Regions from separate parts of the Homo sapiens genome. Here region 1 is linked to region 2. Evidence: fine-mapped expression QTL. Tissue or cell type: whole blood. Region 2 holds a variant in brackets; the other region holds the start of a gene. Each region is shown on its reference strand, or each on the opposite one.

The links. PIP is the estimated chance that this variant, and not a neighbour inherited with it, causes the effect.
Region 1: CRIP1 starts here. The variant in region 2 is the best candidate, but not a certain one, in a credible set for the expression of CRIP1 in whole blood (TOPMed, PIP 0.59).

The regions. Positions count from the first base shown.
Region 1 is chr14:105,485,343-105,488,193 of GRCh38, forward strand. CRIP1 (cysteine rich protein 1) reads left to right here and starts at 1,544. Exons shown (of 6, transcript NM_001311.5): 1 at 1,544-1,630; 2 at 1,857-1,957; 3 at 2,824-2,851. The coding sequence starts at 1,918. RefSeq lists silencers at 1,764-1,813, 1,824-1,923, 1,974-2,103, 2,274-2,483 and an enhancer at 2,730-2,851.
Region 2 is chr9:124,227,651-124,230,549 of GRCh38, forward strand. No RefSeq gene overlaps it. Among named protein-coding and RNA genes, the nearest start is that of NEK6, 29 kb to the right of the region's middle. The variant C/T (reference allele first, on the strand shown) is at 1,191.

The DNA of each region.
Region 1 (2,851 bases), not on the chromosome of region 2:
TTGGTGCCTCTGCCTCTCCCTCTGCTTGTCTGCAGGTTTGTCCCACGATGCCCCACACTCAGTGGAGATGGCAGGTGGGCCCAGACCTCAGAGTGGGTTTCAAGGCTCATGGGCTGGAGAGTGGGGGTTCCAAGTTTGCAGGACAGGAGCGCACCCCTACTCTGGAAACCTTATCTCTGAGGTCTCAGAATGGGGGATGAGGAGGGCTCCAATGGGCCCCTGTGGAATGTCCTATCAGACCCCAGGACTTAGCCCCAGTCGGGGGACAGAACTGTGGCCTTAGAGGGGCGCCAGGAGGAGGGCAAGCAGGATGTGGCCTTGGGCTGGGTGTGCTGGTGTGGGGCTCTCTGGAGTGTGGCCTCTGTGCCAGACGCCTGTGCCTTGGCCGTCCTACAGCCCTGCTGCCCCTGCCCTCTCCCCAAGCTGGGGACTGGTGGCAGACAGGGCAGGGCAGGCGGCTTCTCTTCCTCTAAGTGCAGGCCTCGAGGTGCCGACAGGGGTGCGGTAGGATTCAGGGAAAGTGAGGTTGGGATCACAGGTGCAGTTAGGGCTCAGGGCCCGACAGCGGTAGGCCAGCGGCTCCTGGGGCCCAGGAGGATGGTCTCCAGCGCCCCCAGCGGGGACAGGGCCAGCACAGGCCCAGTGGAGATCGAGGGGAGATAAGGACGCTGGTTAACATGGCTGACAGGAGGGATGGTGGGTGGGGAGGAAGGGCAGCACCGCCCTTGTGCTGTGGGAGCTCCCAGGGAGCTCCATGCAGCATGGAGGTGAAGGGCCTGCAGAGAGAGGGCTCCCCTGCTCAGTGACAGGAGAGGGGGCTGACAGTGACCTGGGCTCCCTTCCTGAGGCTGGCCAGTCAGCTAGAGGGCTGACCCCAAAGCCCGAGGCCAGCGCAGCCCCCTTGGCCCTCCTGAATCTGGGGGGCGGGTGAGGCGGGACAGACTCCGCCTGGCACCGGGACCATCCTCCGCCTCAACTTTGCAGCGTACTTGGACCGCTCTGGCCGCCCTGGGCGCTACCCGCAGAGATAAGGGCCCCTCCCTGCGCCCGGTCCGGGCATCTCCGAGCCGGCCTGGGGGTGGCTGAACTCTCTTTTGCCGGCCGAAACCCCAGCCCCCGCAGCCCCCGCAGCCGATCGGTCCTCAAGCTACAGCTCCCCTCTCTGGGAGTCCCCGCTTTTGAATTCCCCGGGGATGTTCCCGCTGCGGTCCGATGGACCTCCCAGAGCAGCGGAGGTCAGGGGAGCTAGCAGAGGCGGGGACGTCCCTTGGGAGTGAGGGGACTGACAGGGGCGGCCTCGTAACCCTGCGTGGGATGGAAGGTCAGAGTGGGTTCCTCGGTGGGGGGCAACAGCGGGGGCTCTCCGGCAATTGTCCCCGACCCTCCGTCCTGGGGAGGGCAGGATCAGCGCGCGGGCTGCTTTGCATCTCTTTGCATTTTAGTGATGTTTGGTCCAGTCCTGGCCCGGGCAGATCTGGGGTTCGGGCGGGTGCCGGTGGGGTAGGGCTGGGGGTGGGAGCGGCGTTTCCTGCTGCGGGTGAGCCTTTTGCCTCGGAACTGGACCCGGGAGACATCACAGCGCTGGGCTAGGGGCGCGGCTTGAACTCGCCTAAAGAGCTGCGCCCTCTCAGTAAGTCCCCATGGCCCCCTGCCCCCCCGCGCTCCGTCCTCAGTCAGGCCCGGGTCCTGCCTGAAGGCGGGGGTGGACCAGATGATCTTTCTTGGGCCCTGGGCCTAGATTCGAGGTCCCCAGGGTCCAAGTCCTGGGTTCAGAGGGCGGGGCGCGAGGGGCGGGGTCTCCAAGGGGCGGGGTCCCGGGGTCCCTGAAAGGCGCGGACCAGGCCGGATCCACCCAGTCTCGCGCCTGCAGCCCGTGCCGCCCCAGCCGCTGCCGCCTGCACCGGACCCGGAGCCGTCATGCCCAAGTGTCCCAAGTGCAACAAGGAGGTGTACTTCGGTGAGCGCGCCCACACCGGCCCCGCGAGGAGGCGCCGCCGACGGGGCGACGAGGCTGGGGACCGCTCAGGAGGACCGGGGGCGCTGGGTCCCTGGGGCGGCGCCCCAGCCTGAAAACGCCTCAGCCTGGCCCGCCGCCTGCCCCGGGATGAGGGTGGAGGCCCCTGCGTCCGAGGGCCCTGGCGATCTCTGCCTGCTAGTGGTCTTGCTGTGCTCGGCGGGCTACCTCTGGCTCTGAGCCTCCCCGTCTCTGGGTCCTACGGTCTCTGCCGTTTCCTCTCAGGCGCGCCCTGAGTGGGGGACCCGCAGGGCTGGAAGGAACGCGGGGCTGGGGCCGCGCCCCCCAGCGCTAAGTGGAAACAGACGCGGAAACCGACGCCCGGGGCGCGATCCCGGGCGCCCGCCTCCCTGCCCCGCGCCCGCGCGCCCCGAGGGGAGGGAGGAAGTGGGAAGTCACCCCTGTCCCCGCCGAGAAGGGCTGTCGCAGGCTCCACCCTTGCCACCGCAGAGGCCCGGGGCTGAAAGCAGGCAGCCAGGCCCAGGCCCTGCTGACCTAAGCCGCGACCCCTGACCCTCGGCCTCGCCCTCTAGCCCCACCCAGCCTTCAGGAGCAAGATTCCCGGCCGCACCCGAAAGTGCCCCGGGGACCAGCGACCCCGCGCTTTGTTTAGTTGTATTGGCTCTGGGGATTGGAGATGTTCCCCTCATGGAGGGTGCTGAGACCTTAGGGTGGGCTGCCAGGCTGGGCGGATGCGGGCTAAGTGCACAGGGCCTTGGGCAGAGCTGGCTGCAAGAGGCGGGTACGCCAGTGGTGGGTAGGCGCCGCGTCCTGCAGCGTCTCACCGGGGCCTGTCTGTGCCTCTGCAGCCGAGAGGGTGACCTCTCTGGGCAAGGA
Region 2 (2,899 bases):
TGCCTATAATCCCAGCACTTTGGGAGCCTGAGGTGGGCGGATCCCGAGGTCAAGAGATTGAGACTATCCTGGCTAACATGGTAAAACCCTGTCTCTACTAAAAATACAAAAATTAGCTGGATGTGGTGGCACATGCCCGTAGTTCCAGCTACTCAGGAAGCTAAGGCAGGAGAATCACTTGAACCCAGGAGGCAGAGGTTGCAGTGAGCTGAGATCGTGCCACTGCACTCCAGTCTGGTGACAGAGCGAGACTCCATCTAAAAGAAGAAGGAGGAGGAGGAGGAGGAGGAGGAGAAGGAGAAGGAGAAGAAGAAGAAGAAGAAGAAGAAGAAGAAGAAGAAGAAGAAGAAGAAGAGGAGGAGGAGCACTAGAAGAGCAAATGTATTATGAACTTTGGACAAATTAAATAGTCCTTAAAATGGAATATAGCCATTGGAAGAATGTACATTAAACATAATTTTAAAATTTTTCTTTTTTTTTTTTTTGAGACACAGTTTCACTCTTGTCACCCAGGCTGGAGTGCAATGGCGCAGTCTCGGCTCACTGCAACCTCCGCCTCCCGGGTTCAAGTGATTCTCCTGCCTCAGCCTCCTGAGTAGCTGGGATTAGAGGTGTGTGCCACCACACCCATAGAGATGGGGTTTTGTTCGCCATGTTGGCCAAGCTGATCTCGAACTCCTGACCTCAGGTGAATCACCCTCCTCGGCCTCCCAAAGTGCTGGGATTACAGGAGTGAGCCACCATGCCAGCCAAAAAGAATATTTCTTAAACAAGTTTTTGAAAAACCAGTCAATTCGGTAATATGAGGCAGTGGTCCTTCAATGAGTTTTGGAGAACTGCCTTTTGTCCAATCGGCCTTTGAAGGTGTGGCAGCTTCCCCTACACCTGAAAGAGGTCCCACCCCAGGACACAGGCCCTGGCCTTGGGCATGGCAGGCCAGTCTCCCCCAGACCCACCCACTGACAGCCTCCCAGCAGGAGGGAACTCACACTCCTCACAACAGCACTTTGTGGTGTAAATACAAAACCCCATTTTACAGATGAGAAAATGGAGGCTTGAAGAAGTGAATTGACTTGCCCAGCGCCTCATAGTCAAAAAGTAATCAAACTGGACTTGGCACACAGGTTGACAAACCCCAAGGCCAGGATTCTCTCCTTGCTCCCCCAACCCTTGGATCTCCCACCTGCTGG[C/T]GCCAGACCTAATTAGGAGCTCTGCTGGCCCCTGAGGTGGGTTGGGAGGTGGGTGTGTCATTAGATTGTGAGATTCTGGAAGCTCCCGCCATGTGTCATTATGTCTAATTACATGAGTTCAGGCTTCTGCGTGGGCTGGTGGAGCCAGAGTGTCTCCGTGCCCAGGTGGCCAGGGAATTTCTGCAGCCAAGAAGTGGATGAGAGGCCGCTGAAGGACCCCGGTAACATGTTCCCCAAATCTCCTGGAGAAAGCCGAGTTCCAGGCCCCTCCCGGAGGCTGAAGGGTGGCCCCGATGGGGAGTTGGGGTCTCTCCATGCTTCTCGGGGTGCACTTAACCAGACTCCTACCTGGGCAGGGAATAGAGTAGAAGGAAATGGCTGCATGAGGGGCACAGCCCCTAGTCCCCTCATCCCAGCCCCAGACGGACAGACTCACACATGCATATGCACACACAAAACACAGAAACATGGTGTTGGAACAAATATCTGGACTTTTTTTTTTGGTAGATGAATCTGCTCTGTCATCCAGGCTGGAGTGCAATGGCATGATCTTGGCTCACTGCAACCTCTGCCCCCTGCTGGGTTCAAGCGATTCTCCTGCCTCAGCCTCCCAAGTAGCTGGGATTAAAGGGGCCCACCACCACACCCAACTAATTTTTGTATTTTTAGTAGAGACGAGGTTTCACCATGTTGGCCAGGCTGGTCTAACTTCTGACCTCAGGTGATCCACCCACCTCGGCCTCCCAAAGTGCTGGATTACAGGCATGAGCCACCATGCCTAGCCAAATATCTGGACCTTTGAGTAAAGAGCTGCTTACACTTTCATCAGTTCCACTGGGTGTTCACTCTGGGGGAAAGGCAAGTGAGAAGGAACATGGAATAGGGACAGAACGTGGTCACTGTCCTCCCTAGGCAGACATGGGTGAGGGAGGCGATCTTTTGCACGTGCTCATTTAATAAGCAGGTATTGGCCGGTCATGGTGGCTCATGCGTGTAATCCCAGCACTTTGGGAGGCCGAGGTGGGTGGATCACAAGGTCAGGCATTCAAGACAAGCCTGGCCAAGATGGTGAAACCCCAACTCTACTAAAAATATAAAAATTAGCCACGCGTGGTGGCGGGCGCCTGTAATCCCAGCTACTCAGAAGGCTGAGGCAGAGAATTGCTTGAACCTGGGAGGTGGAGGTTGCAGTGAGCCTAGATTGGGCCACTGCACTCCAGCCTGGACAGAGCGAGACTCCATCTCAAAAAAAAAGAAAAAAAAAAAAAAAAGCAGGTGTTGAGTGACTTCTGTGTGCCAGGCATTGTTCTAGGCATTGGGGTTATAAAATAAAGTCCCTCTTCTCAAGGGGAGAGAGACAATAACCATACACTAAATATGTAATGTACCAGATGGTGACAAGCAGAGTGAGGGTGAGGGGCCACTGCTCATAGATGATTATCTGGCTGGAGAAACAGTCAAACCTTTCCCCACTGACTTCCCAAACCCAGAGGATAGATGGAGAAACGACTTGGGGAATAGAAAAAAGGACCCACCTCCCCAGGTGCCTTCTCCTCCTTCTTCTCTTCTCCCTCTCCTCTAATGTTGTTTTTCCTTTAAACGTTACTTAAAACAGACCAGGCTCAGTGGCTCACGTCTGTAATCCCAGCACTTTGGTAGGCCGAGGTAAGAGGATCACTTAAGGCCAAGAGTTTGAGACCAGCCTGGCC